Regions from separate parts of the Homo sapiens genome. Here region 1 is linked to region 2. Evidence: fine-mapped expression QTL. A gene starts in region 2. The other region holds a variant in brackets. All regions are shown on one strand. Distances are between the middles of the regions. Region 1 overlaps PRKCD (protein kinase C delta). Region 2 holds the start of PRKCD (protein kinase C delta).

Region 1 (15,614 bases), 35 kb after region 2:
TTGGGTGAGGAGCTTCCTGTCTCTGGAATGGCAGCCTCAGTGGTGCTGCAGTCCTAACATACGGGGTATTGCTCTCTCACCATGTTCCCAGGAACTCCTGTCTGAGTCCTGTGCATAGAATCAGCCTGACATGGTGACTAAGGGCCCAGGGTCAGGAGACAGACCCGAGGCCAAATGCTGGCTCTGCCTGGGACTAGCTGGTCACTTAACCTCTCAGAGTTTGTCTCCTTATCTGTAAAATGGGGCTATGAGCAGACTTGACTCACAGAGTTGTTGGGAAGAAAATAGAAACATATGATGCTCAGCTGTGGGCCAGGCAGATAGTAAATAATAAAAAGTTCCACCAGCAGAGTCGCAGATGTCCAGCCCAGAGCCTGTCATCTCCGGGGGAGCTGGGAGCACTGCAGGCCAGAGTGGCCTCCCTCAGCCCCACCGTTCCCCAGGCTGACTGGGGCTGGGGCAAGCCTGGCTTTGCATCCCTGGGCCTGCTGGGGATTTGCTGAAGCTCCAATTTCCCATGGCCCTTGGGTGCTAACCAGGGTCCCTGCTGGGTTGCAGCTCTTTGAAAGGGAACCAACCAAGAGGCTGGGAGTGACCGGAAACATCAAAATCCACCCCTTCTTCAAGACCATAAACTGGACTCTGCTGGAAAAGCGGAGGTTGGAGCCACCTTTCAGGCCCAAAGTGGTATGTGATCCTGCCCTGTGCTGCCTTCAGGCTGAGCTACTCCTCTCCTGCCCTCCCTCTCTCCTGCATCATTCACACGCTTTCCACCTCTCCCTTCTTCCAGCAATCTCCATAGCATGTTCAGTCACAGCCGCTGCCCTTGTATTCTCATCCTCTCCCTCCTGACTCAGTCATTCAGCACACACTGGGGACTGTGGATCCCACTGTATGCAGAGGACCCTGTTTTGGGAAATAGAGTTAAGACCTCACTTTATCGCTCCATTCAATCCATTTTCCAATACATATGGGGAATCCTGAGTCCCTGTTGAATGCAGAGCACAGTGCTGGGCTGCACAGCAAAGTGGGAGATGCAGTCCCAGAACCGGAGGAGCTCTCAGCTAGTTGGAGAGATAAGAAACTTGCACACCTATGACAATTTGTGATACGAGATGACAGTATAAGAGATGCCCCAGGACACATGATCCGTTGCTATTGAGTGGGTCTGTCAGCAGGAACCCAGGTGGCAGAGAAGAGGGTGGGTCTGAGAGGCCCCGTTGGAAGAAGTGAGACAAGGGACAGCTGGGAGGCATTCCAGGTGGAAGAGGGGCTGGTTCACTCACAGGCCCAGAATCTACAGGGCTACCAAGGAACCAGCCTGAGAGCAGAGGCAGGTGGGGCCACTAAGAAATTTGGGGCTGTGTGGCCCCTCTGTGACCACAGTTCTTCCTTCCCACTCCCCTTCTGTCCTTTGATTCCCCTCCTCCACCAGGGCACACAGTTCCCACTGGGCAGCCTGTGTAATGCGCCCCACATTTGTGCTTTGAGGCTACAGAGCACTTCCCCTACACCAGGGACCTCAAACTCAGACGTGTCCTGGCTGAGCATGTAACTGACAGGCTAGGCCAGCTGCAAGAAAATCACACAGCCTGCTTTCAGTCTCACTTTTGATAGATTTCCTTCTCCGCACTAAGAAACACAAAGCAGGTGTGATGTACCCCTTGTCAGTGGGGCAGGGGCTGTCCAGGGGGCTCTTAGCACCAAGAGTGGGCAGGAAGTGGGCCCAGGGCTGCTTTAATCTGCCAGTTTTCAAAAGAAGCTGGAAATCTGGATTTTTAGGTTGCATTGCTCAATTTTAAAATATAAGTTCAGGCCGGGCACAGTGGCCCACACCAGCACTTTGGGAGGCTGAGGCAGGCAGATCACCTGAGGTCAGGAGTTCGAGACCAGCCTGGCCAACATGGTGAAACCCCGTCTCTACTACAAAAAATACAAAAAAAATTAGCCGGGTACGGTGGTGCACACCTGTAATCCCAGCTACTCAGGAGGCTGAGGCAGGAGAATCGCTTGAACCCAGGAGGTGGAGGTTGCAGTGAGCCGAGATCGTGCCACTGCACTCCAGCCTGGGCAAGAGAGTGAGACTCCATCTCTAAATGAATAAATAAATAAAAATAAATAAATAAAATATAGGTTCAAATTCCATTAAAACCCAGTACAAGCCGAAATGATTGTACTTGCCAGTTCAGTTTGGCTGAAGGGCCACCAGCTTGCGGTCTTTCTATATTACCATCCCATCATATCCTCAGGAGCAGAGAATCAGCAAATTTCTCCTGTAAACAGCCTGATAGTATATATTTTAGGCTTTTCAGGCTTGATGGTCTCAAAGCAGGCATAGACAGTATGTCAACAAATGGGCATGGTTGTGTATTACAAAAGCTTTATTTATGGAAAGTGAAATTTGAATTTCACCTAATTTTCATGTCATGAAATATTTTTCTTTTGATTTTTTTTCCAACCATTTAAAAATGTGAAAGCCATTCTTAGCTTGTGGTCCCCACAAAAACAGGTGGTAAGTGAGCCTCCCTGGGCTGTGATTCGGTGGTCTCTGAGCAAGAGGCTACCACCTCTCCTAACCCAGGCCCAGAGCTCCCTGGTCACTTTCCTCATCCTCTTGGGGAAATGGCAGCCTCCTTCCCATGGGGCTCCTTTCAGGCTGCTAGGGGAGGCTCTGTCTTCTGTTCTGGGTGAGGACAGCTCTGGCCTGGCCCAGCCCTGCAGGGACTCCAGCCTGGGGTGTCTGGAGGGCCATTCCCTAGGTCCTGTTCGCTCACCCCTGCCCTCTGCTTGTAGAAGTCACCCAGAGACTACAGTAACTTTGACCAGGAGTTCCTGAACGAGAAGGCGCGCCTCTCCTACAGCGACAAGAACCTCATCGACTCCATGGACCAGTCTGCATTCGCTGGCTTCTCCTTTGTGAACCCCAAATTCGAGCACCTCCTGGAAGATTGAGGTTCCTGGACAGATCAGGCTAGCCCTGCCCTCCACCCACACCTGCCCGCTCCCCACGATAAGCACCAGTGGGACTGTGGTGACTTCTGCTGCTGGCCCCGCCCCTGCCCCCAGAGCGTCCTTGGCTGCCGTCTGGCCGGGCTCTCATGGTACTTCCTCTGTGAACTGTGTGTGAATCTGCTTTTCCTCTGCCTTCGGAGGGAAATTGTAAATCCTGTGTTTCATTACTTGAATGTAGTTATCTATTGAAAATATATATTATATACATAGACATATATATATATATAATAGGCTGTATATATTGCTCAGTAGAGAAAAACCATGGGGGACTGGTGATATGTTGATCTTTTTCAAAAAAATATATATATGACAAAAAAAAAAAAAAAGGAGCACAAGCTGTTTGAACCACCAGGTTTATTTGTGTGTCTAAATAAACACCAAATAGTACCAACCTGGTTGTCAGGACACGTTTGTCCCAGGAAGCTGGTGGTGGCCACTCCCACTTTTGGCAGCACTGGCCCGGAAGCCAACTGCTGGGCCTTCATGCAAATGTGTTTGTATTTATGGGTTTCCTCTGGCCCCAGGACCCTGGGCCTAAGGCAGACAGCTTTTCTGGGTGGCGACAGGGAGCCCCAGATGTCTCTGTGGGGTGATGGGACCAGCTGTAGCTGTCTCTGGAAGGGCAGAGAAGTAGAAGACATGAGCAGAGGCTTTGAGGCTGGCTCCAGATGAGGGAGGAGGACAAGGGAGAGGAAGAAAATACAGCTCAGGCTTCAAGCATATCTGGATTTAAATCACAGAGTAGCCAAAGGATGTGGGCACGTCACTTGATCATTTTAAGCCTCAGTATTGGGTGGGCGTGGTGGCTCACACCTATAATCCTAGCCCTTTGGGAGGCTGAGGTGGGAGGTCTGTGTGAGCCCAGGAGTTTGAGACCAACCTGGACAACATAGCGAGACCCTGTCTCTTTAAAAAAAAAAAAAGAAGAAGAAGAAGAAAAAGAAGGAGAAAAAGGCTCAGTTTCCTCTAAAATGGGGACAAGGCAAGGAGACCATAGCTGTAACTCCTCATCTCATTACCATTTATCCCTGCCTTTGCCGCAGAGGAGTCTGTGTCTAAATTCTAGAATCTATATCATAGCAGCTTTTGCCTACCTGGGGAAGGAGAGACAGGCAGGGTGGGAGAGAAAGGTGGAAAAATGCTGAGTGACTGGGCCAAGGTTGACAGACATGCTCCAGTGTGCCTGTCGTGCAGGTGAGGAATGGCTCCAGGAGACCAGGAGGTGCCGGCATCCCCCCAAGAGTGCACAGCTGGAGACAGTGTGTCTGCTCTGCCCTCCTCCCCACCGTTTCCATGTCTCCCCCTCTCCTGGCTTTTCATTGCTTCCGCCTCCCTCGCTACCTCTCCCTCTTTCTGTTCCCGCCCTGCTGTCTGGGACACCGGTCTCAGGCAGAGCCTGCTCTTCAGCCCCTCTGGTCCAGCCCTGGCCCTCTGTCCCTAGAGGGGGGCGAGGCACTCCTAGCACCGGATTGGCTGGCCTGGGCAGCCAAGCAACTGACTTCCAGCAAGTTCATTTTTCTGGGCTGAGGTACAAGTTTCCACAACCGGAGAGGGTGGGATGGTATGGGGCTGGTGCTGGCCCAGGGAGGGGGCTGCAGGGATGGGGGCCAAACTCTCCCCAAAGAGACCAAATGTCCCCTTCTCCTCCCCACCTCCTATCTTCTCAAGGAACCTTCCTCTTGAATTCCTGCTCTGCCTTGGGCCAGCCTGGGTGTCCAGGACAGCAGGGAAAACCTCAGAAAGTGCTTGTCCTGTGGGATCACACGTGGAGGAACTGGCAGCATGGCATAGGCTCTGTTCTGGGACACTGGGGCTGTAGGAGCCCAGAGGAGGTGCCTGGAGACCCCCTGTTCCCTGCCTCTGCCACAACACACACATTCCCCAAGAACCCTCATGGAGCCATTCAGAGGGAGGTTAGAACAAAAACGTGGTTGGTGTCTGAACTCAGAGCCTCCCAGCGTCCTCCTGAAGCACCAAAGCGGAGCCTTGTAACTCGAGCCGTTTCCTCCCGTGTGGAACCGGGGAATAGGTTGTTTATCAGCCAGAGGCAGTGGAGGGTGGTGGGAAGAACATGGTGCCTGGAATCAGAAGCCTGGGGTTTGAATTCCACTCCGCTACCTACATACCAGGCACTCGATGAGTTCCTTCATGGGCCTCAGTTTCCTCATCTGTAAAACCAGACCATTAATCCTGCTGCCTCATGGAACTGACTCTGGCAGGCCCTTGTAGGACTGTTGGTCCACTACTCAGTGGTGCCAGGCAGAGCCCAGGAAAGGACAGGGGCTGGGCCCGTGAGGTCCACCTCAAGCAGCCCAGGACAGGAAGCAGCTGCTGGGGACACTGCCAAACTGCCTGGGAGGCTACACCATTCCAGGCCCATTCCCAGCCATTGGGTGGGTGCCAGGCTTGACCCAGCAGCCTCAGGAAATGCCTCTTAAGGCTGGGCCCTGAACCACACTTTCACTAGGACCTGGGGACCCTGAAGCAGGCAGACTGCCCTCTGCCTCCCACCTGCCAAGTAGGTATTTGAGCAGCAGCCAGCCTACCCCCGACCCTGCAAGGGCCAAACAGAGCTGGGTGCCCCATCAGTGCTGGGCCGAGCAGCATGGATACAGGAGGGCCTGGAGGCAGGAGCATGAGCTCGGCTACTAGACAGCCCTGGGTTCGAACTGTGCATGTCCCTGGTTGTGTGACCTCAGTAAATGACTTAACCTCCCAGTGCCCTAAATTCCTCTACTGTAAAATGGGGATTACCATGATGGCTGCCGTGGACTGTGATGATGTCTCTAAGTGCAGGGCATGAGCTCAGCGTGCACTAGGTGCATAGGAAACAGCAGCCACTATGACCCCGTGCCCGGGTGGGATGAAACATGCTCAGGAGAGCAGGCCTGTCCACTGCACACTGCACTTCGAGTGCAAGTCCTCTAACTGGACCGCAGGTGGGCGGTTAAATGCACCCGCCTCATGACCCAGTGGTGCCTTTCAGGCAGAGCTACCTGGGAACTTCACCCAAGGGCCCCAGAAGGCTTGCCAGGAAGCCCACCACTGCATGGATTAATGGAAAAACTGGAAGCAAGCAGAAGGCCCAGCAGCCGGGGAACTGGTTAAATACTCTCCTGGCGTGGAAAGTGGTGCAGGGCCAAGTGATCGGCAAAAAGAGACATTGAGAGAATCAAAGATGCAGCCAGATTCTACCCTGTGGTTCCACAGGCCAGCTCGTGAGGGCATCCAAGGTCTCAGGCACAGCAAAGAGCTGCAGAGATGAAGGATGGATGGAAGGATGGATGGATGAATGAATGGATGAATGAATGAATGAATGAATGAATGGACTGCCGAGACCCCAAGTCCCTTTAAGGCAGTGGCTCCCAAATTCAGCGTGTGTTGGTACCATGTCAAGTTCTAACCAGCGGGTCTCAGCCCTGGCTGTCACTGGAAGCCGATGCCAGGCTGCCCTGGTCTACTTACTCGGTGATCTGTGGAGGGCCGGGCATCAGTACTTTGAAAGCTGCCCCTGCGGTCCCACCTGCGCAGAGCCAGTTGGGGAATCTGCATTTTGCCCAGTCATCCTGGTGAAGCCAGAAAATGCTACTCTGAACAGGCCACACCCTGGAAGGCGAAGTCACCTGCCTGTATGGCCCAGTCTTGGCCCGCAGAGGCCCGAGCATCCCCTCCACAACCTGCGCCCCGCCTGCGCAAGGACCACGGGCGGAGGGTTGGTGGCTAGGGAAGAACGGTGCGGAAAGCACGCGGCCCCAGCTGGGCTACAGCGCCCTCTGGCGGCCAGAAGGCTCGCGGGCGCTGAGGCCGCAGACCCCAGGAGGGGAGGACCCCCGTGGAAGGGAGCGCCGGCTTTCTCACTTCGTGTCACTACTCCCTGGGGAAATATTTCAATAAAGAGGTACTGGGTGACCATTTTGGAGAGGTTCAGAGACGTGGAGGTTACAGCTAGACAGCCCCCTGGTATTTTTAGGATCTCCGGACCGCCCTAAATTCAACCATTCCAACGTCACAGCCACATTCCCCCATTTATTATTAATTTATTTAGAGACAGGGTCTTGACCTGTCACCCAGGCTGGGGTGCAGTGGTGCCATCACAGCTCACTGCAGCCTCGACCTCCTGGGCTTGTCAAGCAATCCTCCCACCCTCAGCCTCCCGAGTAGCTAGGACCACAGGCATGTACCACCCTGCCTGGCTAATTTTGTATTTTTGGTAGAGTTGGGGTTTCACCATGTTACCCAGACTGGTCTCAAATTCCTGAGCTCAAGCAATCCTCCCACCTCGACCTCCCAAAGTGCTGTGATTACGGGCGTGAGCCACCGTGCCCATGAGCTCACCATGCACCTGCCCCTTCCTCGGCCTCCCTCAAAGCTGGATGGGATCTTCAGCTCCCCCCTGCACCCTGACTGTGCCCAGCACGTGATCCCGGACGACTGTGGTGTCAGAGGCTGGGGAGCTGGTTGTGGTTTCCTGAGTGCTGACCATCCTCCCAGGCACTTTATCTCCTTAGGCTGGGGCAGGGGGAGATACATGCAGCTGAAAATACAAGACCTGGCAGCAAAGGAAAGGAATGGGGACAAAGGCCCCCAAAGGTGAGAGCCAGGCCTGAGTCAGCACAGCCCAGATCAGGCCAGACATGTGAGGTTTGGGGCACTCCTTGAGTCTGGTCGTCAGATTGAATCAGCCCTTCACATAGCCTCAGTGATTTAAGTCTTCAGAACTTGAACGCCAGTTCCTAAATCAGGCTTCTTAAGTGGGGCTTAGAAGATTGATATGGTTTGGCTGTGTCCTTACCTAAATCTCATCCTGAACTGTAGTTCCCATAATCCCCTGGTATCGTGGGAGAGACCCAGTGGGAGGTAATTGAATCATGGGGGCGGTTACCTCCATGCTGTTCTCATGACAGTGAGTTCTCACGAGATTGGATGGTTTTATAAGGGACATTCCCCGCCCCCCCCAACTTCACTCTGCACTTCTCCTTGCTGCCGCCACGTGGAGGACGTGTTTGCTTCACCTTCTGCCATGATTGTAAGTTTCCTGAGGCCTCCCCAGCCATGCAGAACTGTGAGTCAATTAAAACTCCTTTATAAATTATCCAGTCTCAGGTATGTCTTTATTTTATTTTATTTTTTATTTATTTATTTTTTTGAGATGGAGTCTCACTCTGTCACCAAGGCTAGAGTGCGATGGCGCGATCTTGGCTCAC[T/C]GCAACCTCCACCTCCCAGGTTCAAGTGATTCTCCTGCCTCAGCCTCCTGAGTAGCTGGGATTACAGGCATCTGCCACCACGCCTGGCTAATTTTTGTATTTTTGTAGAGATGGGGTTTCACCATGTTGGCCAGGCTGGTCTTGAACTCCTGACCTCAGGTGATCCTACAGCTGTGGCCTCCCAAAGTGCTGGGATTACAGGCGTGAGCCACCGTGCCCGGCCTTATTTATTTATTTAGAGACAGAGTCTTGCTCTGTCTCCCAGGCTGGAGTGCAGTGGTGCAATTTTGGCTCACTGCAACCTCCGCCTCCCAGGTTCAAGCCATTCTCCTGCCTCAGCCTCCTAAGTAGCTGAGATTACAGGCACCTGCCAGCACGTCTGGCTAATTTTTGTATTTTTAGTAGAGATGGGGTTTCACTATGTTGGCCAGGCTGGTCTCGAATTCCTGACCTGAGGTGATCTGCCTGCCTCGGCCTCCCAAAGTGCTGGGATTACAGGCATGAGCCACTGAACCTGGCCGATATGTCTTTATTAGCAGTGTGAGAACAGACTAATACAAAGACTCCTAATTTCTTCTCTGTCTCTGTCCTGAAATACATAACTCTGAAAGCCCTGACATTTGCTGCTCAGCCCACATTAAGTACTGGATAAAGCTCAGAGCTTTGGGGAAGGTACTTTTCCTTTTTCTTCTTAGGAGAGGGGAGTTTAGCTTTCTATCAGTTTCACCTGGGGTGGTAGATGCAGGAGCTGTGAGTAGGGTGGGCAGTGCTGCGCTCTGTTCCCAAATTTGTATATTCCTTCATGGAACAGGTGGCTGCTGTGTGCCAGGACCTTGACGAGCATCACTCAACAGGCATGACTGTGCCTGGCACTCATGGTGTGTGGCCTGAGAGCCCATGTCAGAACACCCTGGGACAAGCACTGTGCTTGATGCTTTTCCTGCATGGTTGCCTGCAGTTCGTCGTCACAACAGCCCCGTGAGGAAACGGCTGGGACTCTCTCCTTTTACCGGTGAGCAAACCCAGGCTCTGAGAGGTTGAGTGATGTGGCCTACAGCTCTGGAATGGGGGCTCCTTCCATCTGCGAGTTGGTTCCCTTGTCATGTTTCCTGTAGAGACAACAGGACATTCTCCCTTCTTTTCCTGGGCTTGCTCAGGAACTGTCAGAGAACACGAGGGCTCCCTACCCTGGTCCTGTCCTCAGAGGGTCCAATAAGAGAGAAGTGAGCCAGTGGCAGGCAGGGACAGCAGAGGGCAGCAACGATGGGCACAGGCAGGCTGACTTGGAGCTGGAAGGACCCTTGGAGATTATGGGTCTGTAGTGAGGATATCCATGGATTCACAGTGGGGAAGCTGAGGCCAGAGAGGAGAAGGGGTTGGGCCAGGGTTGCACAGGAAGGTAGTGGCAGGGATGCAGGGAGACCCTCAAAGAGAACAGCCAGCTGGTCCCCAACATGCTACCTCCTAGAGGGCAGAATCCTGACTCAGTGTCCTTTGCACCCACTGCAAGCCCACAGTGAGCCCAGCACGTGGTGTGTGGCCAGTCAGTGTTGAGGAATGAGCACAGGTGAGTGAATACCGAGTGTCCACTGAGTGCTCGCTTCACCCCAGCACAGCCTGCCTCTCATTCTCTTTTCCCCTCCCCTGCTCTGGTATGAGGAGGGACAAGGATAAGAAGTAGGTAAAGTTAGGAGTGGCCTCTAGTGCTGCCTGTGGCACTAACGGTGGCAGATAACCAAAGCCCAAGGCCTTAGAGTTCATGTCCTCCAGCAGGTGGGTGGTGGAGGCCAGCCGCCCCAGCCGAGGGTGGGGACCCGGCTCAAGAGCAGGGCAGTGGCTGGGCATGGTGGTTCATGCCTGTAATCTCAGCACTTTGGGAGGCTGAGGCGGGCAGATCACTTGAGGTCAGGAGTTTGAGACCAGCCTGGCCAATATGGCAAAACCCCATCTCTACTAAAAATACAAAAAAAAAAAAAATTAGCCAGGCATGGTGGCAGGCGCCTGTAATCCCAGCTACTTGGGAGGCTGAGGCAGGAGAATCCCTTGAACCCAGGAGGCAGAGATTGCAGTGAGCCAAGATCGTGCCACTGCACTCCAGCCTGGGCGACAGAGTGAGACTCTGTCTCAAAAAAGGCAGCAGCAGGAGGACCCAGCCCATTAGGCAGCCCACTGCCATCAGTAGCATTGGCAAGACCTCTCCAAGCCACTTTCTGTGTTGTAAATCATGAGTTGAGAAACAGTTAAGCCAATTTAGACACACTTTGCATGAATAATATGTTAAAAATAATATGCTTCACAAAATATTTGCATTGAATCAAAAATGAATTTTGTTAGCTTAATTGTTCTTGAATACCCTGTCCGGAAAAAAAGGTATGTTTTGAAAAAAAAGTCTTTAAACCTAGCTCACGTTTGTCAATTGCTTGATATCAAATGCCCCTGTTTATAATGGACCCATATGCATACTCTGCCTGGCATGTGCCAGGAGGTGGCAGTGCTGATGGCCAAACCATGGGACGAGGGCTCAGAGTCAGATCTGGGTCTACACCTGCCTGCCCCATCCCAGTTGTGTGGCCCTGAGCAGGCTGTTCAGCCTCTCTTAGCCTCAGTTTCCTCATCTGCAGCATGTGCATAATAGTATATGGTTGTTAAGAGGTCAATGCATGGAAAACTCATACTGCAGCCAAGCACCCAGAAATGTAAGAATGTGATTCTTAACTCCATGAACATTTTGCATGTCATCATACATGATCTCTTCATAACAATGCTGTAAGCATAAGGAATTCTGTGGGAAGGGGACACACTTTTCCTAGCATGGGAGTGGGGTACAGAGCCCTGAGTCATGAGTCAGCAGTGGGCTCCAGTCCCTGAAACAGGGGCCTTCACTCTTCCTCTCACTGTGGGCTTTGGGCCAGCAGCCAGCTCCACAGCAGAAAATGTGTCTAAGATTGGTAGGAATAGCAAGTGAGCCTCATGTGAGTTTAAATTGCGAGAAAGAAAATTTGAACGTCAAATACCCCAGTTCTCAGCACAAATTAAAATCAAACCCTAGGAAAGGCGGTAATTACCACTGTCACAAAATTCCATGGAAAGTTGCAGCAGCAGTAGAAAGAACAGCTGACACCTGCGACATGGCCCCCTTCTCTCCCCCCATTTGGTTTTACAGCCCATGCTGAGCTCCCTGCCTCCACCCTCATGATCCTCCCCAGCCTATTCCAGAGGCTCAGCTGCAGAGCCACCTGGAGACCCCCAAATGTAGCCCCTACTGGTAGCGTCTGGGGCATGAATGTGCAGGTTGAGCTGATGTTTCTTGAGCATCTACTAAGGGCAGATCTGGTACTGGAGGCTTTAGTGCATTAGTGGTCTTGACCTTGAAATGAAGGCTGGACTCATTAATTCACTCTGTGATGGCATGTTGGGGGCTCTGCAGGATGGTGGGAAGCTGACGCAATCAAGGAACAGAACTCATGCCCTCAGTTGGGAGGCAGGTGCGTAAAGACGATCACAGTACGTGGTGGTGTGGGGACGAGGGGTGCCCACAAAGGCTGTGGGCATACAGAGGCGCTGGCTCTTCCTGGGTGGGCTGTGGCAACCAGGGAAGGTCTCCTGGAAGCGGGTGAAGTAGGATGTGGGACTCGGACACTGGACCAAATTGAGGACTAGCTAAAACAGGGAGGGGGCAAGCAGTTTTCTGTAATATGCAACCGCGGGTGTGCCATGTCAGTTTACTGTTGCCACGGCAACACCCAGATGTTACCACCCTTTTCCATGGCAATGACCCAACGACCTGGAAGTTACCACTCATTTTCCTAAAGCTTTCTGCATAATCCACCCCTTAATTTGCATATAATTAAAAGTGGGTATAAATTTGACTGCAGAACTGCCTCTGCGTGGCTACTCACGGCACAGTGCCTGTGGGGTAGCCCTGCCCTGCAAGGAGCAGTGCCTCTGCTGCTGCTGCATGCTGCTGCACGCTGCCGCTTCCATAGAAATAGCTGTCCTCCAGGTGCGGTGGCTCACACCTGTAATCCCAGCACTTTGGGAGGCTGAGGTGGGTGGATCACCTGAGCTCAGGAGTTCAAGACCAGCCTGCCAATATGGTGAAACCCCGTCTCTATTAAAAATACAAAAACACAAAAATTAGCCAGGCGTGGTGGTGGGCACCTGTAATCCCAGCTACTTGGGAGGCTGAGGCAGGAGAACCATTTGAACCCAGAAGGCAGAGGTTGCAGTGAGCCAAGATTGTGCCACTACACTCCAGCCTGGGCAACAAAGGGAGACTCTGTCTCAACAAAAGAAATTGCTGCCTAACACCACTGCTTGGCCTTGGATTCTTTTCTGGGTAAAGCCAAGAACCCTCCGAGGCTAAGCCCCAGTTTTGAGGCTCATCTGCCCTGTATCAGGAGGAACATGTAATCCTGAGACCCAAAGAATGAGTAGCTCTCACAGTCAGTCTGGCAAAACTTTTCAAGTCTGATAATACCCAGTGCTGGTGGTAGGTGTAGGTGTTGGGCAGGGCGGGGTTATGGGGGAGGCACTATTCGCAGCAGTGGGAATGTAAGTTGGCCCCATTCTCCTGGAAAGTCATTTGGCACTCTGTGGGCACTGAAGACCAGCAGTGTCTCTGCTGGGGACAGCCTTGGTGGCCTCAAGAGTCACACAGATGAGGATGCTCGTTGTCTATTTTAGTCTCTGTGCTTGTCTCTGTGTTCCAAATGATCCATAATTTTTTAAAGTGTCTTTTAAAGAATATGTAGGTGTTCTGACTCTTGATCTGATGGCTGGTTACCCAGGCGTCCTTTTATAATAATTTGTTATACTGTTCTTTTGTTCTATGTGCTTTTCTTTATGGATATGACATTTCACAGTTTTTAAAAATTAGAAAGAATGAGTAGGCGAGACGCTGGGGTCAGGCAGTCTCAGGCAGAGGAAGCAGCCTGAGCAAAGCCCGGGGAGCTGGGCAAAGGCAGGGGTGTGCATGACCCTGGGAATCCTGGCCCAACAACCAGGCACCCTGGCCCAAGGACATGCGGTCCCCTGAGGAACAGCATCTCTGCTCCCACCTCTGGCTAGCCATTGGTGCAGCACCTGCACTGCCGAGGCCAGGCCTAATTTAGTCCCACTTCAGCCTGTGTGAGGCTGGATCAAAAGTGAGCTCTCAGTGAGGGGGAACCAGTAGAGGTGAGATGATGGGTTTAATAAAGTAGTTTAACCACCGCCACTGGGTGTGCTAAGAGGCGGTTGCTGTGGCCAGCAGGTGGAGGTTATAATGAGCCTGGCAGTTGTTGTTGGAGGCGGCAGGCAGTGGCTGTGCTGATGGGAGAATTCGTGGCAGTGGCAGCTTGACAACCTGTCTGGGGAGAGAGGGCGGAGCAGCGGCCACCGGTGGAGGCACGGGGGCAGCTGTGCCCACAGGGGTACTACTGATGGCTCCCCAACCAGCTCCACAGCCTTTTCCGGGGGCTTTTAGAAGGTTGGAGGAGATGGAGTACAGGCAGGGGTGGCAGGAAAGTTGTTTTTTCAGTGGAAGCCAAAGACAAACTTCAAGAGAAGAGGAAAAGTTGTTTGTTAAACTCTCTAGTGGTTTTCTGCATTGGCGATGGGAAGTCAAACCAAAGCACTGGGCTTTTGGCCTCAGCGGGGTGCTGCACCTGCAGGGTACGGAAGGGCACCTGGCATGAGGGAAAATGAGTGATTTATCTAACAAGTTGTCTTATTAGGAAAACATGGTGGCTCACTCCTCTAATCCTAGCACTTTGTGAGTTGTGATATGATTTCCAGGTGGGAGAATCACTTGAGCCCAGGAGTTCGAGATCAGCCTAGGCAACATAGTGAGACTCTATCTCTTAAAAAATTAGCCAGGCATGGTGGTCCACCTGTGGTCCCAGCTGCTTGGGAAGCTGAGGCGGGAGGATCGCTCGAGCCTGGGAGGTCAAGGTTGTAATGAGCTGTGATTGCGCCACTGCACTCTAGCCTGGGTGACAGAGTGAGACCCTCTCAAAAAAAAAAAAAAAAAAAAAAAGGCTGGGTGCGGTGGCTCATGCCTGTAATGCCAGCACTTTGGGAGGCCGAGGCGGGCAGATCACGAGGTCAGGAGTTTGAGACCAGCTTGGCCAACATGGTGAAACCTCATCTCTACTAAAAATACAAAAATTAGCCGGGTGTGGTGGCGCACGCCTGTAGTCCTAGCTACTCAGGAGGCTGAGGCAAGAGAATTGCTTGAACCCGGGAGGCGGAGGTTGCAGTGAGCTGAGCTCGTGCCACTGCACTCCAGCCTGGAATCTGTCTCAGAAGAGAAAAAAAATATCAGAAAACATTCAGACATTTAAAAAAGTATAGTGATTCTGTTCCAGATGAAGAAACAAGTAGAGATAAAATTGCAGCCCCTAGGCTGGGTGAGGTGGCTCACTCCTGTAATCCCAGCAGTTTGGGAGGCCAAGGCAGGTGGATCACCTGAGGTCAGAAATTCGAGACCAGGCTGGTCAATGTGGTGAAAATCTGTCTCTACTAAAAATACAAAAATTAGTTGGGTGTGGTGGCATGTACCTGTAGTCCCAGCTAATCAGGAGGCTGAGGCAGGAGAATTGCTTGAACCCAGGAGGTGGAGGTTGCAGTGAGCCAAGACTGCACCACTGCACTCCAGCCTGGGCCACAGAGCAACACTCCATCTCAAAAAAATAAAAAAGAAAAGAAAAAGAAAAAATAGCTGGGCACGGTGGTGGGCAGGCACCTGTAGTCCCAGCTACCTGGGAGGCTGAGGCAGGAGAATCGCTTGAGCCTGGTAGGCAGAGGTTGCAGTGAGCCAAGATTGCACCACTGCATTCCAGCCTGTGCAACAGAGCAAGACTGCATCTCAAAACAACAAGTAAATGGAATCATGTAATACGTGGTCTTTTGTGGACTGGTCAAGTGCATTTCTTTTAACGATTGAATGGCATTCCATCACATAAATTTACCACAATTTATTTATCCAAATAAATGGTGTGGAATTTTGCTTTCAGTCAAGATGGAGTAAAAAGGGGACTGTATTTTCCCTCCTGCCTGAAAAACTAAAACTCCAGACAAAATGGATGAGACAGCAGTTCTGAAGATGCTGGACATCAGGAACAAAGGACAGTGATCTGAGAGATGGGAAACGAGGGAGCTGAGCCCTGACTGCCCCAGCTCTACTGACTGCAGAGGGTCTCCAGGCTGTGGGACAGGGAGGGGGGATCCAGGTGGAGGCCAGTGGACTCCCAAGTTGAGTAGATGAAGCTGGCAGTCCAGGCAAGCCAAGGTGGCTAGAATTCACAGTGCATCCTACTGGGGACAAGAGAGCGAGAGAGAGAGAAAGAAGGAGAGAAAGAAGCCTGGAACCTGCAGAGACGCCTCCTCAAGTCTTCGCTGAGTACTGATTATTGC
Region 2 (15,614 bases):
TCCAGTGCCCACCCTAGCACAACTATTAATAAATGTCAGAAGCTGGCAGGAATCCCCGCTCCACTGGCCTAGAGTGGAGGTGTAAGAGGCCCTGCATGGGGCCCACCTGAGGGCTTAGATTCAGTACCCCAGCCCTTGACCCAAATTCCACCGCTTACTCAGAAATCCCAGCCTTCTCCCTGCCCCCTACTGCCCTGGGATGCCTGCCCAGTACCCACGGGCCCTGAGGGGCTGCCCTGGGAACTGGCTGTGTTTCCGGCCCCAAGGCCTCACCATTACTGCTGCCCAGGCCTGCCCAGTGGCCTGGCCGCCTGCCTAGCCACTGTGGCCAAGATGGCCACAGCCTGTGCCCACAGAAGCCTGCAGGCAGAGGCAGGGCCCAGGCATGTGAAGGTGGTGGGGTGGGCAGAGCCTGAGGGTGAGACTCACCTCCCTGGGGAGGCTCCTCCCCTGCCAATTTCTGCCTCTGCCCACTGCAGGCTGCTGGGCATCAGGGGAGGAGCTCCCCTGGCATGTCTCTGCTAGGGGAGCTCATGGTCTGGGGGAGATGGACATGAACAGCCCAGCTGCCTATTTCTAGTACTGGGCACAGAAATGGGCACTCTGCTTCCAACATTTTAATTTATCTTCAGAGCAGCCCCAAGGCCTGGAGATTTTACAGATGAAGAAACTGAGGCTGAGAGAGGGCTGGCACTTGCTCCAGGTCACACAGCCAGTCAGCATGGGGGCTGCATGCTAGTTCTTCCCACTCTGAAGCCTCTGCAGTAGACAGTGTGGAGTTGGGGGGCTTACAGGAAGCAGAGGATGCCTCTGGTTAGGGGCAGGGATCTGGGAGCCTCCCTGGAGGACAATTTGCAGGAGGACCATTTGCATGGGACCTCATCAAATGGCTAGAGCTTAATGGAAAGGCATTCCAAGGCAAAGCACAACCTGAGCAGAGGCTTGGTGGGGAGGCTTCGATGGGCAGTGGCAGGGGGAGTGTAGGTGGGTGGCAGAAGTGCCCTCGTGCCCAGGGCCTCTCATATCACTGGAGGACTTGGGGTGGAGGGTGCTGGGTGCTCAGCCTCTGCCGGTCCAACTGGCCCAACCACTTCTCTCTGGCACTGCCCACTGTCCCTGCTCACAGCTCTGCCAAGAGTTGTTGGCAAACCCTGGGTGAAGTCTGGGTCAGGGGCCTAGGATTCCTCCAATCCCTGTCCCAGGGCAAGGATTAGGGAGTCCTGAGCCCCAGGCTGCTCTGCTCAGTCTTGGAAGGCCTCACGCAACCCCCTTCACAAAGCCTGCCCGATTGTGTCCTCAAGGGACAATTTATAGCATGCAATGACAGTGCGGAGGGCAGGTCTGTCTGGGGAGATGAAACGACCTGTGCGATTACAGGAGATTCCTACTTTCCTCGGTAAACTTGTCTCTGTCTTCCTTGCTTTAATAGAAAATGTATTACTTTTTTTTTTTTTTTAAATCAGAACAGCCAATGTGTGTGGCTACTTTTCCAGGTTTCGGTGACTCTCCCTCTTCCCCTCTCATCCCATATCCAGCCCCCAGTCCTCAAGGTCTTCTCAGAGGTTCCCACTAGGAGGCCGGCTGCAGTGCCCTGGACGACCCTCACACCCAGGACCTCAGTTGCTCCATCCAAGGAATGGGCGAGCTCAGGTCTTCCTGACTTTCCTGGAGAACAAAGAGGGTGAGGAGGCGAAAGGGCCTCCCGGCGCCTGGAGCCAGGTGGCTGCCGGACCCGGGAATAGAGCCGGGTGTTTTATAGCGGGGTTTGCGTCACGCGGCTGGGCGGGCGTCTGCGCCCCCGGCTCGGAAAGGCTTCCCTGAGGCGGGGCGGGGCGGGGCGGGGCGGGAGGGTGGGGCCCGGGGGACTTTGTGCTGGTGCACGGGGGTCGCGCCGACTGGCGTGTACGTGGTTGTGCGGTGGGTATGGAGGTGTGTGCACGGCGCGGGGGACCCTGCTGTGCCTGCAGTCAGTCCTTCCCAGCCTGCCAACCTCGAGCAGCCGCCTTTCAGCTCAGGGCCACCCCCTACACTGTTTCCCATGGGCCAAGCTGGGTTTGGTGAGCTGTCCTCTGAGGATGTGGGGGATGAGGGGCTGAGAGGTGGGAGCGGGGAGCTGAGGCACCCTCAGGCCAGGGAGCGAAAGGAAAGGCAGGTGAGGCTTATAGCCCTCCCTGCCCTGCTAAGCCCCATGAGCCTCCCAGTAGGGACCCCGTAGATTAGAGCTAAATGGGTGCCGGGGATGGGGGCGGTGGAGGAGAGCTGGGAGGTCCCCTGGACTCCGTGCGAGGGGATAGCTCTTGCTGATGACTGTCCCAACACCAGTGCCCCTTCTCCCCACCTACACACATGTTTGGGGGCAGGGGCAGAGGAGCCAGGGAAGGGGACTCAGGCTGGCAGGGGCTGTGCCATGGTCAGTGCAGAGAAGGGACAGTCCAGGGTACACACCCCTGGGAGAGCCACAGGAAAGCCCTGTGTTCTGCACTCCCAGGACACACCTTCCCCTTGTCTACCCCCAAGTATGTCTCAGGTTTCACCCAAACACAAATGTGTTGAGGAAGGAACATGGAGGCAATTAGCCCAGCCTCACCAACTCTCTGCCTGGCAGGTAACACCAACATGGGATGAACTTGAACTCTTCCATCCTCTCAGCCTCAGGAGGTCGATCTTAACCAAACACCACTCCACAGATGAGGAAGCTGAGGCACATTTAAGTTGCAGTGCAGGGCAGAGCCAGGATGCGAACCAGCCCCTGGGCTGGCACTTCCCTGCTGTGCAGCACTACCCACAAGGCCACTGTCCCCCTCAGCCTGTCCTTGCTTGTCCTTAACCTAGTACCTGAGGCTGACACTCCTGTCGATGACAGTCTTGGTGGCCTGAGGCATGGGCATGTCCCAAGTGTCCTTCCTACTACACTGTCCCCAGTGGGAACCTCCCAGGCTCTGCTGCCCCCAGCAATTGCCCAGGTGCACTGTCGCTGTTGACTGTGTCTCCTGCTCCAGAAACACAAGCCCACTCTCTCTTGGCCAGGCCAGTGCTCTGGGTGTGATGGGGATTGCCGTGGCAACCAAAGCTTCAGGGACAAGGATGGTGACACAGAGAGACAGAAACAGAGAGAAGGTGCAAAAAGCAGAAATGCCAGGACAAGGACCAACTCTTGGCAGGGATCAAGTGAGGGACCCCATTTGCCTTCAGCTGTGTGGGCCTCAGGGACAGAGGGAGGCCTTTTCCAGGTTGCTTGGCCGAGTCTTGGACTTCAGGAGTGGAGGAGTCTGGAGGCCTCCCAGGGTTGATGGCCTTTGGAGGAGGCAGAGGTGGCAGGGGTCAAGTTGCTTCTCCTCTGGATAAATCCTCCAGGAGGCCCACAGAAGGAACAGCCCTGGGTGGATGCTGTGGGTGGGAGTCTGGAAGCTGCCTGGCACCACCCTAGCCCATCTCCTTGGCTGCAAACCTGGAGGAGGAGGAAAGTATCACCTCTAGGCAGCTGCTATGAGTCTAGCCCTGCTCAGGGATTTACGCCCCATGTCAGGAGAGGCCATTGAAGCCTCTTTCAAGGCTGACAGCCTGTGACTTGGCACATGACCAGGCTGTAACCCTGGGCAATGTGTCTAGCCTGGCCGAGGCTCTGTATATATCATCTCATTTAACTCTTACCACCTCATTCAACTCCTGACATGAGTCTGTCATCAGCCCTTTTCATAGGTGAGAACTCTGAAGCTGGGAGAGGCATGGTCACCTACTCAGGGTCATACAGTTGGCATGTGACACAGCCAAGGTTTGCTCTCAGGCTTCAGCAGGCCCTTCTTGTTGATGCAAGGCAGATTATGGGGACACAGATACCAGCTCATCTGGACCCTGCCCTGGCCCACCAGTGTGGCACCCAGAAGCAGCTCCAAGATGCAGGGTGGTTCTAGTCAAGCTTGGCCTGGATTCTCTGGACCTCATGCAAACCTATTCTCCCTGGAACCCTTGGACCTAAGGCCTGGAGGGAAGCCCACCTTCATCCCTTCTCTGCCCTCGCCACAGCATAGCTAGCACAGCCTTAGCCCCTCTGACCCTCTCTGAGTACATCGCACTTCCCCTTTCTCTAGAGGAGAAAGATTGGCTGAAGCCAGTGTATGCTTGCAGCCCCTGAGCTCACAAGTCTGCATATCCTGAGGATCAGGAAAGTGCTTCCTGTTGTCTAATGTAAATCTTGTTCCTGTAACACCAGTATATGTCAAAGCAGTGATTCTCAACAAGGGGTAATTTTGCCCTGCAGCAGACATTTGGCAATGTTTGGAGACATTTTTGTCTGTCACAAGTTAAAGCAGGGAGGTACTATTGGCATCCACTAGGCAGAGGCCAGGGATGCTGCTCAACATCCTTACAGTGCACAGGGCAGCCCCCACAGCAAAGAATCATCTGTCCCAAAGGTCAGTGGTGCTGAAATTGAGATCCCTGATGTAAACTATGGGCTTTGGAGCCAGACAGACCTCGGTCTGAATCTGCGTCTGCCACTGACTAGCTGTGTACTCTGGGGCAAGTCGCTTCTCCTTTCTCTGAGCCTCAGTTTGCTCATCACCAAAACTGGCACTAACAGCAGCCCTCACCTCTTGAGAACTGTTCAGACTGCCCACATCCAGCACCCAGCACACAGCCTGGTGCTGGGTAGCCCCTATCAGCGATAGCCATGATTATTCATTTCCTTCTTCCATGGTGAACCACACGGAGTGGGAACAAAGGTCTGGTGGCTGGACCTGGAGCTCCTCAAGGGTCAGTCCTCCCTCTGGCTGCAGTCCCTGGCACAGGGTGGGCCTATTGTTTATGTTGAGGGAGAGACTGGGTTGGCTTACTGTGGACCTGAAGGAGGAGCCAGAAGGAAACCCGATCCCAAGTGGGCAAAGGTCACTTGAGGCTCACCTTGTTTACCCTTTCCTCCAGTCCAACCCCAGGGAAGCCATGGGGCATGATGGGTGGGGTGGGATGGGATCAGGACACAGAACATGCTAATGAATATGGTCCTTCACTCAGGGAAGTGCCGTGCATTACAACTGGGCATCAGGGAGGAGGGACATTTGAATGGACACAACCAGGGCAGGTAGAGGTTTGGGGGTGGGGTGGGAAATGGCATTCAGGCCCAGAGAACAGCATGCTCAAGGCCTGGGTGTGAAGAGAAAGTCTTTCCCAAAGGATAGTCCTTGAACCCACCTGGTCTGGCCTTTTCTCCCCATCCATCTTCCGCAATCTCAACCAGGGTCCTCCCACCTGAACAACGTGGCAGCCCTTCTGTCCCCCATCCAGCCTCTCCTCTGCCCTGCTGTCCCTCTGCCCCATCTATCCCGCAGGAGCCCCCTTGAGCCTGTCATCCTGCCTGGTTGTAATAGCTTTCACCACCTTCTCATTGCTCTGTGAGAAGACCAAAGTCCAATGGCCTGTCTCTGTCACAAGCCCCTTTCTCAGCTCAGGCCACCTCAGGGATTGTCCCCCACTTCCATCCCTTGTGTCTCAGCTGGGAAGAGCTGTCTAGACTTTCTCTATCCCTTCTAGGTGGTTCCCCAGGACCTGGAACCCTCTTTTTTGTCTCCTGGGAAGTGACATTTCTTTGGATGAGTATAAGGCTAATGTCTTGGCTTTCTGAGCTCTGGGGACAGGGGAATGGACTCCCTAGAACCCCAACTGGTCCCTAGACTTTGAGCCTAGGGGACACTCGGTGAATAGATGAATGAGTGAATGAATGAATGAAGGAGTTATGGCTGACAACCAAGTTCCATGTCTGGAAAGGAGGCTCAGGCGCCTGCCAGGAGCAATAGAGAGGTCTCAAAGGTGGGGGCAGGAAAGCAGAAGACTGCCAATCGGGGTAGGGGCAACTGCCAGTCCGAGTAGGGGCAGTTCCCAGAACCGCCTGAGGAGCAGTGCAGCGCCCGACCAGCGAGAACCTCCGACCCTGGAGTCTAACCAGCTCAGTCTTTGGGGCAGAGCCGGGACAGCGGGCTTGGCGGCGGGCACCGCGCCCGGCCGCGTCCGAGCTCCAGCCAACAGGAAGAGCAGGAGTGGGGCCAGGAGAGGCGGGCCAGCTGGCCAGTGGGGAGTCCCGGGCGTGGGTGTGGGGAGCGGGGGAACCCCCGCCGGCCCCTCCCAGGCCCCAGCGGGCGGAGGGAGCCTCCCCACCGGGCCTCAGCGTCCTCCTCTGTAAAATGGGCCCCTTCTGAGGGCTGGCTGCGCGCTAATGGCGGGAGGATGCGAAGAGGGCCAGGCAGGGCAGAGGGACCGGGAGACTCGGTGTCCCGCGCAGGCAGAGGCGGAGGGACGCTGTCCCCGATTGCAGCTGGCGGGGCGAGGCCTGGCAGGGCGAGGCCTGGCGGGGGCGGGGCCTGGCGGGGGCGGGGCCGGCGGCACCTGGGTGAGGTCGCTCGGCCCCGCCCCCTCGCACTTCCGTGTGCCGCGGCGCCGGAGCCCGAGGCGGCTGTAGCCCACATCTCCCGAGCGACCCCCGGCGCCCGCCCGCCGCGCGGAGGCCCGGGCCACACCTCACTGGCCGCTTGGCCCATCCCAGTCAGCGCCGCGCCGAACCCCGTCCGCGCGCGCCGGGGAGCGGCGCCCCCGCCGCTGCCGCCGCGACCCTTGGCGCCTGCCCCTGCAACGGGAGGTAAGTGAGGGCCGGGTCCGGGCGCGGGATCGGGGCTACCCCGAGGGCGCGGCGCCCTTCCTTCCCCCTTCCCGCCCCAGTTCCCGTTTCCGAAACTGAGAAACTGAGCCGCGGTCAGCGAAAGTCCCGCCGCGCCGAGACCTGCCGGTGACTCCGTCCCCCTGTCCGTCTGTGTGTCCCTCCGCTAGACAGTGGGGGCTGAGGTCCTTCTGTCTGCCCGCTCCCGGCCCCTCCACCCGCCCGTGTGTCTCCCGCTCCTCCGAGGGGCCCGTCCGTCCCTCCCGACTCTCTCCCGGGCCCTGTGTCCGTCCGTCTGTCGCCACCCACTCTGTGTTCTCCCCCTGCGCGCCTCTCCGAGACCCGATCCTTCTGTCCCTCGCCACCCGATCCGTCCGTCCCTTGCCCTCCGCGTGCTCCATCGCCCCACCCCCACCCACACCCCTACCCCCGCCCGCCGCCCCCTCGATCCCGTCCTCCCGGAGCCGCGCCCCCGGCCCACGCTCGCCGCCCCCTGCCAGTCCAGCCGCCTCTCCGCTCTACCGCGGGGCCCAGGCCAGGCCGCCCGCCGGGCCTCGCCTCCCGCCCCTGGGTCCCTGGAGGCCCGACCCGCGCGGCGCCTCCTCCTCGCTGTCTCTTCTTTCGGTCTCAAGAGTCTTTCTCGGTCCCTTCATCCGTCTCTGGGCTGGGCGTGGCTCCAGTCTCCACCATCCCCCTTCCCACCCCACCCCTCCGCCCCTCTGAGACCCCTCCCAGGGTGGCCCCTGCCCGATACGGTCTGTACTCGCCCCCAACCCAGATGCCACTCCCGTTGTGGGGGCTCCACCAGATGAGGGGAGGAGGTCGGGGGGGGGGGTCCTCCTGGCTGGTGGTGGAGCGGCAGAAGGAGAGCACCATCGGAACTGCTCCCACTTCCCCAGTTCCCTCTCTCTTGGGGCAGGGGAGAGCCCCACCGAGCCCCGCCTTAAACCTGGTCAGAAGGATCTGCTGTGAGTGGGCGGGGGGTCCCCTTCTCTGACGCCTACCCTGTATGCGTGGAAGCTGTCTCCTTGTGCTAAGTCACTGGTATCTGGGTGTGTGGGTATGTTGTGTGTCTGTGTCAGCTTCTGTGCTGTCTGTCACTGTGGGACTTGCCTGTGCATGTGTGTCCTTTTTCGCATGTGTGACTTGCTTGTGTGTATGTGTGTATGTCTGTTTGTGTCCTGAGGCTCTGTGTGTGTCTTTTGCAACTGTGTGTACCATTCTTGGTGTGTTTGTTGTCACCAGACTCGTGTGTGTGTGTGTGTGTGTGTGTGTCCTTGCCTGCTAGTGTGTGTGTCCCTGTGTGTCTGGAGGTTTCGGTGTTGCACACTGGGTATATCATGGTGACCAACTGGCCATGAGTACGTTAGATCTGTTAATTGTGGAAGCCCCTGGTGTTGGGTGCCTACCCACCAGTCTCATGTGTGAGTGTATCTGTATAAGTGTGTGTATGTGTGTGTACTCACGTGTGGCTCTCCCTCTGCCACTGAGTTTCTGTGACCAGGCCCACCTGGTCACTAAGGGAGGGGACTGATCCCTGGGGTTTCCTCGTTCCTGCTGTGGAGTGAGCTGGGGCTTGGTGAGCAGGCCAGCAGAGGGAGGCTGTATGGTGCATGTGTGATATGTGTGGTTGTGTGTGTGCGTGTGTGTGTGACAGAGAGGTGTGGTGGTGTCTGGGCAGCTGTACCTGGCTGATGGGTGGTGTGAGGGCTATGCGATGGGACAGTGCTGGGGTAAGCCTGGGAGTGTGTGGCCACGGTAGGAGTGTGTGACTGGTGGGACACAGTCTATGAAACTGCCGGTGTATGCTTGGGGAGTGACTGTGATTGTGGGGAACCGAGAGTGCCTGGGCGTGGGTGTTAGCGGCAGGAGGGGGTGTGACAAGGTGTGTGGTGACAGTGCTGGGAGGGAAGGTGAGAGCCCAGTGTGGGGGTGTGTGTGTGAGTGTGTGGGAGACCATGAGGATGTGGGTGTGCACATGGAGAGGGCTAGAGGGCAAGTCTTGGGGTTTGTAGTGTTGTGACCAAGACCTCGGGCTCTGTACCCAAGAATTATTTGGGCTCCAATACTTGCTTGTGCCTGTTAAGAGCAAGAGACCCAAGCTAGGCCTCTCAAGGCTGAGTGTCCTTATCTGCAGAATGGAGAGAGTGAGGACAAAAGTTCCTGTGTTAAAGGTCCTTTAACACAATCTTGGCCCATAGTGAGAACACAGCACATGTGAAGTCTTTTGTTGTCACCACCCCCAGCTATACGGTTCCCATTCTCCTGGGAGCTGGGGCTAAAGAAAGCCCAGACAGTATCCAACCCAATTTCCTGCCTGTCTGTTGCCCCTTCCCATCTCCTTGACCAAGCAGCTTGAGGGAGGGGGGATGCCCAGACAGAGCCCCCAGTACCCAGCCCTGTTCAGCCTGCATGACAGCCCCTCCCTCACCAGACCTTAGTGTCAGTAGTAGCGATGGGGGAGACAGGGGTGGGGGATGATTCAGAGCTGTGACTGCAGGGCGCTGACACCATTTAGCTGGCACAGTTTAGATTAAAATTAGAAATAATTTAAAGTACAGACAAAAAGATAAAGCCAAGGATGCCTCTGCCCCCAGGGAATGGTGATGGGGGTCTCCAGCTGGGGGAGGGGTTCACATCTGGGGAGCAGAATCTTTCTTAGAGGCTTGAGCTGGCCTTCAGAGAAAATGCTTAGGCCTTTCAGCCAGGAGACACAGAGTACCTTGCTACCTTTGCCATTTCTTCCTCCCAGGATATCTCCAGGCCTCAGTTTTTTCAGCTGTGTAATGGGCACAATAGTAATGTGAGAATCACCTGAACTGTAAGGCACAAGAGATTAAAAAATGTCACTCTTCAGTCTGGGCACGGTGGCTCACACCTGTAATCCCAGCATTTTGGGAAGCCGAGGCAGGTGGATCACTTGGTCAGGAATTTGAGACCAGCCTGGCCAACATGGTGAAACCCTGTCTGTACCAAAACTACAAAAATTAGCTGGGTGTGGTGGCGCGCACCTGTAATCTCAGCTGCTCAGGAGGCTGAGGCACGAGAATCACTTGAGACCAGGAGGCAGAGGTTGCAGTGAGCCAAGATCGTGCCATTGCACTCCAGCCTGGGCGATAGAGTGAGACCCTGCCACATTAAAAAAAAAAAAAAGTCACTATTCATTTGGCATTCTCAACATGAGTCCAGCACAGGAGCTGGCACGCCACATCATTGGAACCTCAGAACCACCTGGGGAGAAGAGGCTAGTAGTTTCCCCATTAAAAAAACTGAGGCTCAGGGAAATTGCACCAGGACATAAAGTGGTGGTACTTTGTTGCACCCTAGGACTCCTAAACCTGCAAGGCAACCTCCCACAGACAGGAGGGTCAGGAACAGGTTTTTGCTGTGTTATTGGCTTCCTCACCAGGCTGGAAATGTGCTCAGGGCAGGGACACAGTGTTCCAGCCCCTACCATGGAGTGGACAAATAGTGGTGCCCAGGAAAAGTTGGGCCCAACACCACATTTCAAGGAAGGGAAAGCCACATCCAGAGAGACCCGAGGTTTTAGGTCCAGGAGAGACTGAACTGGGCCCGTCAGCCATGCTGGGACTGGTAGACGGGGAGAGCCTGTTTGGCGGTGCCTCCCGGCTCAGCTGTTTCCTCCTGTTCCTACAGGTCTGCAGGGAACTGGCCAGGCAAGGGGGCAGGCCCGTTTCTCCTGGTGGTTGGTGCGTTGTAGCAGCAGCGGGAGCCAGGACTAAGGACAAGCAGGAGCTGGGAGCCCCAGGTAGGACTGAGTTCTCTTAGGCAGATGGATGGTGCACCGGTGTAGCCTTCCTCTCTGGCCTCTTTGTCCTTTGCTGTGGAACTGGATGGGGTTGGGCATGCATGCAGAGTCCTTGATCTGGTTGTGGGCCCTGTGTGCCCAGGGGCCGCAGCTGTTTGCCCTGTCTATGAGGGGCTCTCTGCTCATGAGGAACTTCCTGCCTAACCTGGCTGTGGCCCCAGAATGCTCTCACCTTGGAGCTCAGAGGCCTGGGGCCTACCATTAATTTGGGGCAAAAAGTAGTAACGCTTTTTTGGTCAGTTAGAGAGGGTGGCTCATGGGCCAAAGATTGAGGGTGGGTGTGTCAGCTTTTCCATGGCCCTGTATCTGCCTCAAACTCACCTCATCATCACACAAGGACACTGAAATTCCCCGTGGGCCCCACAGTGGGTTGGACACTGCAGGGGGATGGAATGGGGTCTCCAGCTCCAGGTACAGCTGAGCTGTCTTCCACACCCCAGGCCCCTCCATTTTCCCCAGCTTCTCTGGAGCCCGAGCAGGGCTCAGTCCCTCTCTTCAGCTTCCAGATTCAAGGGGAGCTAGGCAGAGTCTGGAACAATGCTGGGAAGGCTGCAGTCTCTTTGAATCCCCTCAGAAAGCTAGAAATTCCTTGTTTTGGGGCGAGCCTTGCCTCCTTCAGCCCTATTACCATGAAAACATTGCTGTGGGTGACTCCATACTCATTCCAGGCTGGTGACTGGGTGACCGGGCCCCAGTGAACAGGGTACTGGTGGTGGGTATGGGTGCTAATGAAGCTGGAGCCTCGGAGTAACAGTGGGGGGATAGCAAAGACCGTCTTTCCTCCAGGAGTGCTCCCTGAGCAGACCCTCACAGCCAACCCTACTGGCTGTTACGCACCTATAGGTCTGTGAGTAGAGCCATAAAGGCTGGGCTTCCTGGGCCTGACTCTGGGTTGGGGGCAGAAGGGAGGTCAGGGCCTTCACTCTGGGGTAGGAGTTGGGACAGAACAGGAGCAGTCTTCACTGGGCCTTCTGTGTATTGGACCTGTCCCTAAACCTGGTGTGGAGGAAGTAAAGCGCCTTTGGCTGTCTAGGGGCCTCTGCCACCTAAGTTCTGAAGAGCCAGCCCTTTCCGTCACTCAGCCTTGTTTTGTAAGGAGTTTGATTAGTCTTGGAGACAGCCCACTGTAAACCCTCAGACATCACCCTCCAGCTGCACAGACATATGCGTGCTCACACAGGGATATGGCAAGCTAGGCTGCAGTGGGCATGCACACCCACAGACTCATGAGTTCCTGTACGTGCACCACACATGTGGGCATGCAGGTACACAGGTGCTCACATGCAGCCACCCATGGCACACTCACACACACACAGATGCTCTCCCAGTTACCGTTGGCATCCATGCACTCAAATGCCTGCCCACACATACCGCACTGTGCCCATTCTGGGGTCAGGAAGGGGTCCCTGGTCAGAGTTACAGCCCAGTCAGGTCGCCTGCATCTGGCACCTGAGGGGCAAGTTCCAGGTGTGGCTGTGATCTCAGTAAGGGGGGCTGGGCCACCCTGGTAGGTGGGCTCTGCCCATGCATTCAGCAGCCACCCTGCCCACCTGGCCCCAGGCTCCAGGCCGACCAGGGATTGGCATGGGAGATGGGAGGCATGAATGCGGGGGAGAGGCTGTGTCAGCTGTGCCAGCACTGTGTGCCTGCTGCTACAGCAGAGGAAGTAGGCTGTCTGGCCATGGGGCCAAGGTGCTCACAGTGGGTGGGGGTCCTATCAACTCCTGTGTCCCCCACGGTGTCCATGCCTAGAGGGAGTGGAGTTGCTGGGCTCTAGGGACTGAGAGGTTGGCAGGGGCTGTCTGTTCACTTCCCAAAGCCTGGGCCTAGGAGAGAGGCCCATCTGTTCAAGGCGTTTCCGGAGGCTTACTTCCTCTGAGCTGCCCAGGAAGTGGTTTTGGAGTGGGACTGACCAGCCCTCTGTCAGTGGCTCTACGCCTTGCTCCGCCCCTGCCTTGCCTGCCCAGGGGAGCAGCGTCTGGCCACCGGGTTAGGCTGACTGACCAGGCTTTTCACTGCCAGGGCTGCCCAGGCCTTTTTGGGGGGCTCTAGGAGAAGGGCAGGGGGCAGGTCACGAAGTCCCCTGCAGTCCCCACAACCGTGGCTCCTTTCTTGCTCTGAGCCTGTAAGCCGAGGCTCAAGAGCATCAACTCTGGTAGGCATGGCCCCCTTGAGAGAGGTGATGGCTGGGCTGCATCTTAGTGACTAGGCAGCTCCCAGCAGCTCTATGAATGAACCTGGGCAAGTGGCTCTGCCGCTCAGTGCCTCAGTCTCCCCCTGACAGATGAGATAATGATAGCATCCATCTTGATGAGGTTGTGCGGAAATGACAGATAACATATGCAAAGTAGCTGGCATCGTGCTTAGTGCATTGTCAGAGTTGAATGAGTAGAAACTGTAGTTATGTAAAGCATTTAGAGCCCAGTTCATGGGAACTATTCAAAAAATAGCAAGTGGGACTGATGAGGGGGTATTATTATCTGATGGGCTGGGCACTGGCCCAGTGTTACATGGCCAGGTGGCTGTGGAGCCTGGCTGAGGAGCCAGGTCTCTGACTCCCTCATCCCCCTCAATTCTACCTCCAGTGGCAGTGCCCTACTTGTTCAGTAGGTTCCATGCCCTCCGAGGAGAGGAGCTCCTGTTGGAGCAGCTCCACCCACTCAGCAGTCCAGCCCCTGCCTGCTCTTCTCCCCCTCACTCCCTTTCAAAGGGAGAAAATAGATCTCGTGACAAATGGATGCAGGGAGGGGAAAGGCAGTCTGCAGCTGCCTGCTGCCCCCTCAGGGCTCCCCTTGGCCCTCTCCAGCTCTGGCCTCCTGCAGGACATTAGGCTGGGAGAATTGGCTGGGAACGAGGGGGTGGACGTAAGCCCTCCTGCCAGCCTGCTTACCCTTCAGACCCCTGGAGTCAGCCTGTGGGCTGGGGCAGGGAGTGGGCATCTGGGACTGATGGAAGCTAGAAGAGTAGGGGGAGCTAGAAAACCCCCTACACCCATGGCAGCTGGGGGCAGGGCCCAGCCTGTCCCAGGGACACGAAGAAGGTCAGCACAGTTAGGGTTGGGCTAAGCATTGGCCTTCACTGTGTGGGGCCCAGAGGCTGGGGATGAGGAGTGTTGAGGAGTGGTAAGGACAGTGATGCAAACAGCAGGGGCCTGAGGGCTGGAGAGCGAAAGGTGGATGGGCCTGGGCGGGAAGTGTGGTTGAGGGTATCCTGAAGGCTTAGGAGCAGGACTTCTGCAGGCATCAGACAGACCCTGGTTGAATCCTTGCTCAATATTTACTGGCTGTGCACACTTGAGCCAGGGACTGGACCGTTCCCCACTTGCCTCGTCTGTGAAATGGGCAGATCACGGGGTGTGGTGTCCTGTGAGACATGAACGATGGGAAGGAGCCACTGTGTGGGGTGGGGTGGAGCAGGAAGACGGAACAGCAAGCCCAGAGGCTCCTAAGCGGGAAGGAACTGGCTGCTTCGGGAACTGAAAGGGGTCAGCGTGGCTGGGGCACAGGAATGAGGGAAAGGCAGCGCCTGCCCGAGAGGTCAGGGAGGTAACGGTGATGGGGAGGGGGGTGGCGGGGGGCAGGCTGCATGGAGCAGGCTGAGGGGAGGAGTCTGGGCTTGTCAGAGGGGCAATGGGAGGCACTGGGGGCTTGGGCAGGGGGTGACAAAATCTGTCTGAAAAGCCCCGTCTGGTGGCTGGAACAGGGGGACTGTCGGGCCGGGGTAGAGGATGGAGAGCAGTCAGAAGACAGGTGCAGAGCCTGGGGATGGTGGTGGTGGGAGAAGAGGATTTGAGACTTGAGGACAGGCTGCAGCGGCAGACGGGATGGCCTTATTGTGTGGGGAGCAGGGGGAGCTGTCTGGCCTGAGCCACTGCCTGAGCTCGTGCACTCCTAGTGGATGAGGAGCGCTGGGAGGGGAACGGCGGGGGACTGGTGTGGGCAGGCTTGAGCTCTTCTGGAGTCATTCATGTGGTGAAGCCAGGGAGGCAGGTGGGGCCACAAGCCTGAAGTTCAGGAGGGTCTGGGCCCAAAGTAGAGACGGGAGCCTAAAGCCAGGATTGGGGAGGAGAGGGCTCAACAGGCCTTCTAAGGGGTGGGGGAGCATTTGAGAGGCCCACGAACAGGACTGGGATGGCTGTCCCTCAAAGGTCTCTGCCAAGGCACCCAGGAGGGCAGGCTTGTGGTGGCTGAGCCGCTGTTTTCACAACAGCTCCGGAAGCTTTGGATCATGTCTATGGCCGTGTTGGGTAAACAGGCAGAGCAGAGCAGGCAGTCGCCAAGGCCTGAGGCTAGATCAGATGTCTGCGTGGTGTAGGTTGTGGGCTGGGGTTGTTGGGGTGGGAGGAGGATCCCAGGGTCCTCCAGTGTCAGGGCTGGAGAAAGCTTAGAGGTCTCCATTGTTGAGACAGGGAGGCTGGAGCCCCGGGAGGGGCAGTAGCTGGCCAGCCTCTGCCAGTGGACTCATGCTGCCTGCTTCAGCCCAGTTCTGCCCAGAGCCTCAGGCCAGAACAGGGCACCCTGCGGCTGGGGGGCTTAACAGAGCCTCTTTTCCCACTTTCCAAGGAAGTCTGGAAGACACCAGAGCACTTGGGCCAAGATCGCGGAGCACCCAGGCAGCAGATCTGAGCTAGGCCTGTCTAGGTCCAAGCTCGCCGGTTCCTCTGTCCGCTGCCTGCTGTGGGATGGCGCACCATGCGGGATGGTCCTGCCTCTCTCCCAGCTTTCTCAATATCCCCAAAGTGGGGAAGCATCATGTGGATCCTGCCCAGATCCTGGGGATGACTGGCAAAAGGGTTAGGTGGCCATCTTGCCTTCTCCCAAACACAAAACGATTGTTTCCAATGGTAAACCATCTGGAAAATCGTGGGAACTCTGTGGGAGAAAGAAGGGCTAAGGAGTAGGGCTCTTGTACTGGGGGCTGATGGAGGAGCTGTTCCCATCTCCAAACACATACCCTCACCCCATTGGAGGCCAGATGGGCAGTTCTAGGACTAGAGCTGGAAGTTCTCTCCCCACTTCCCCCTGGGTCTGCCCCATTGGCTTTGTGGCTTTGGTTGAATTGCTCAACCTCTCTTTCGGTTTCTGCACAGTGAGCCTGGAGCTCAAGGAACTTGCTCCTGGGGTGCCCGGCTTGCTGCCCTAC

Evidence for each region. PIP is the estimated chance that this variant, and not a neighbour inherited with it, causes the effect.
Region 1: its variant is fine-mapped to the expression of PRKCD in whole blood (INTERVAL, PIP above 0.99).

What each region holds. Positions count from the first base shown.
Region 1 is chr3:53,189,315-53,204,928 of GRCh38, forward strand. PRKCD (protein kinase C delta) reads left to right here. Exons shown (of 19, transcript NM_006254.4): 18 at 559-687; 19 at 2,794-3,403. The coding sequence ends at 2,952. Among named protein-coding and RNA genes, the nearest start is that of PRKCD, 36 kb to the left of the region's middle. RefSeq lists enhancers at 1,655-1,784, 2,732-2,991, 4,859-5,153, 13,387-13,886 and a silencer at 6,747-6,796. The variant T/C (reference allele first, on the strand shown) is at 8,217.
Region 2 is chr3:53,154,804-53,170,417 of GRCh38, forward strand. PRKCD (protein kinase C delta) reads left to right here and starts at 6,406. Exons shown (of 19, transcript NM_006254.4): 1 at 6,406-6,625; 2 at 10,301-10,412. RefSeq lists enhancers at 1,677-2,177, 4,174-4,253, 12,606-12,715, 12,726-12,795, 12,911-13,591 and 1 more and silencers at 5,908-6,857, 7,128-7,357, 15,469-15,518.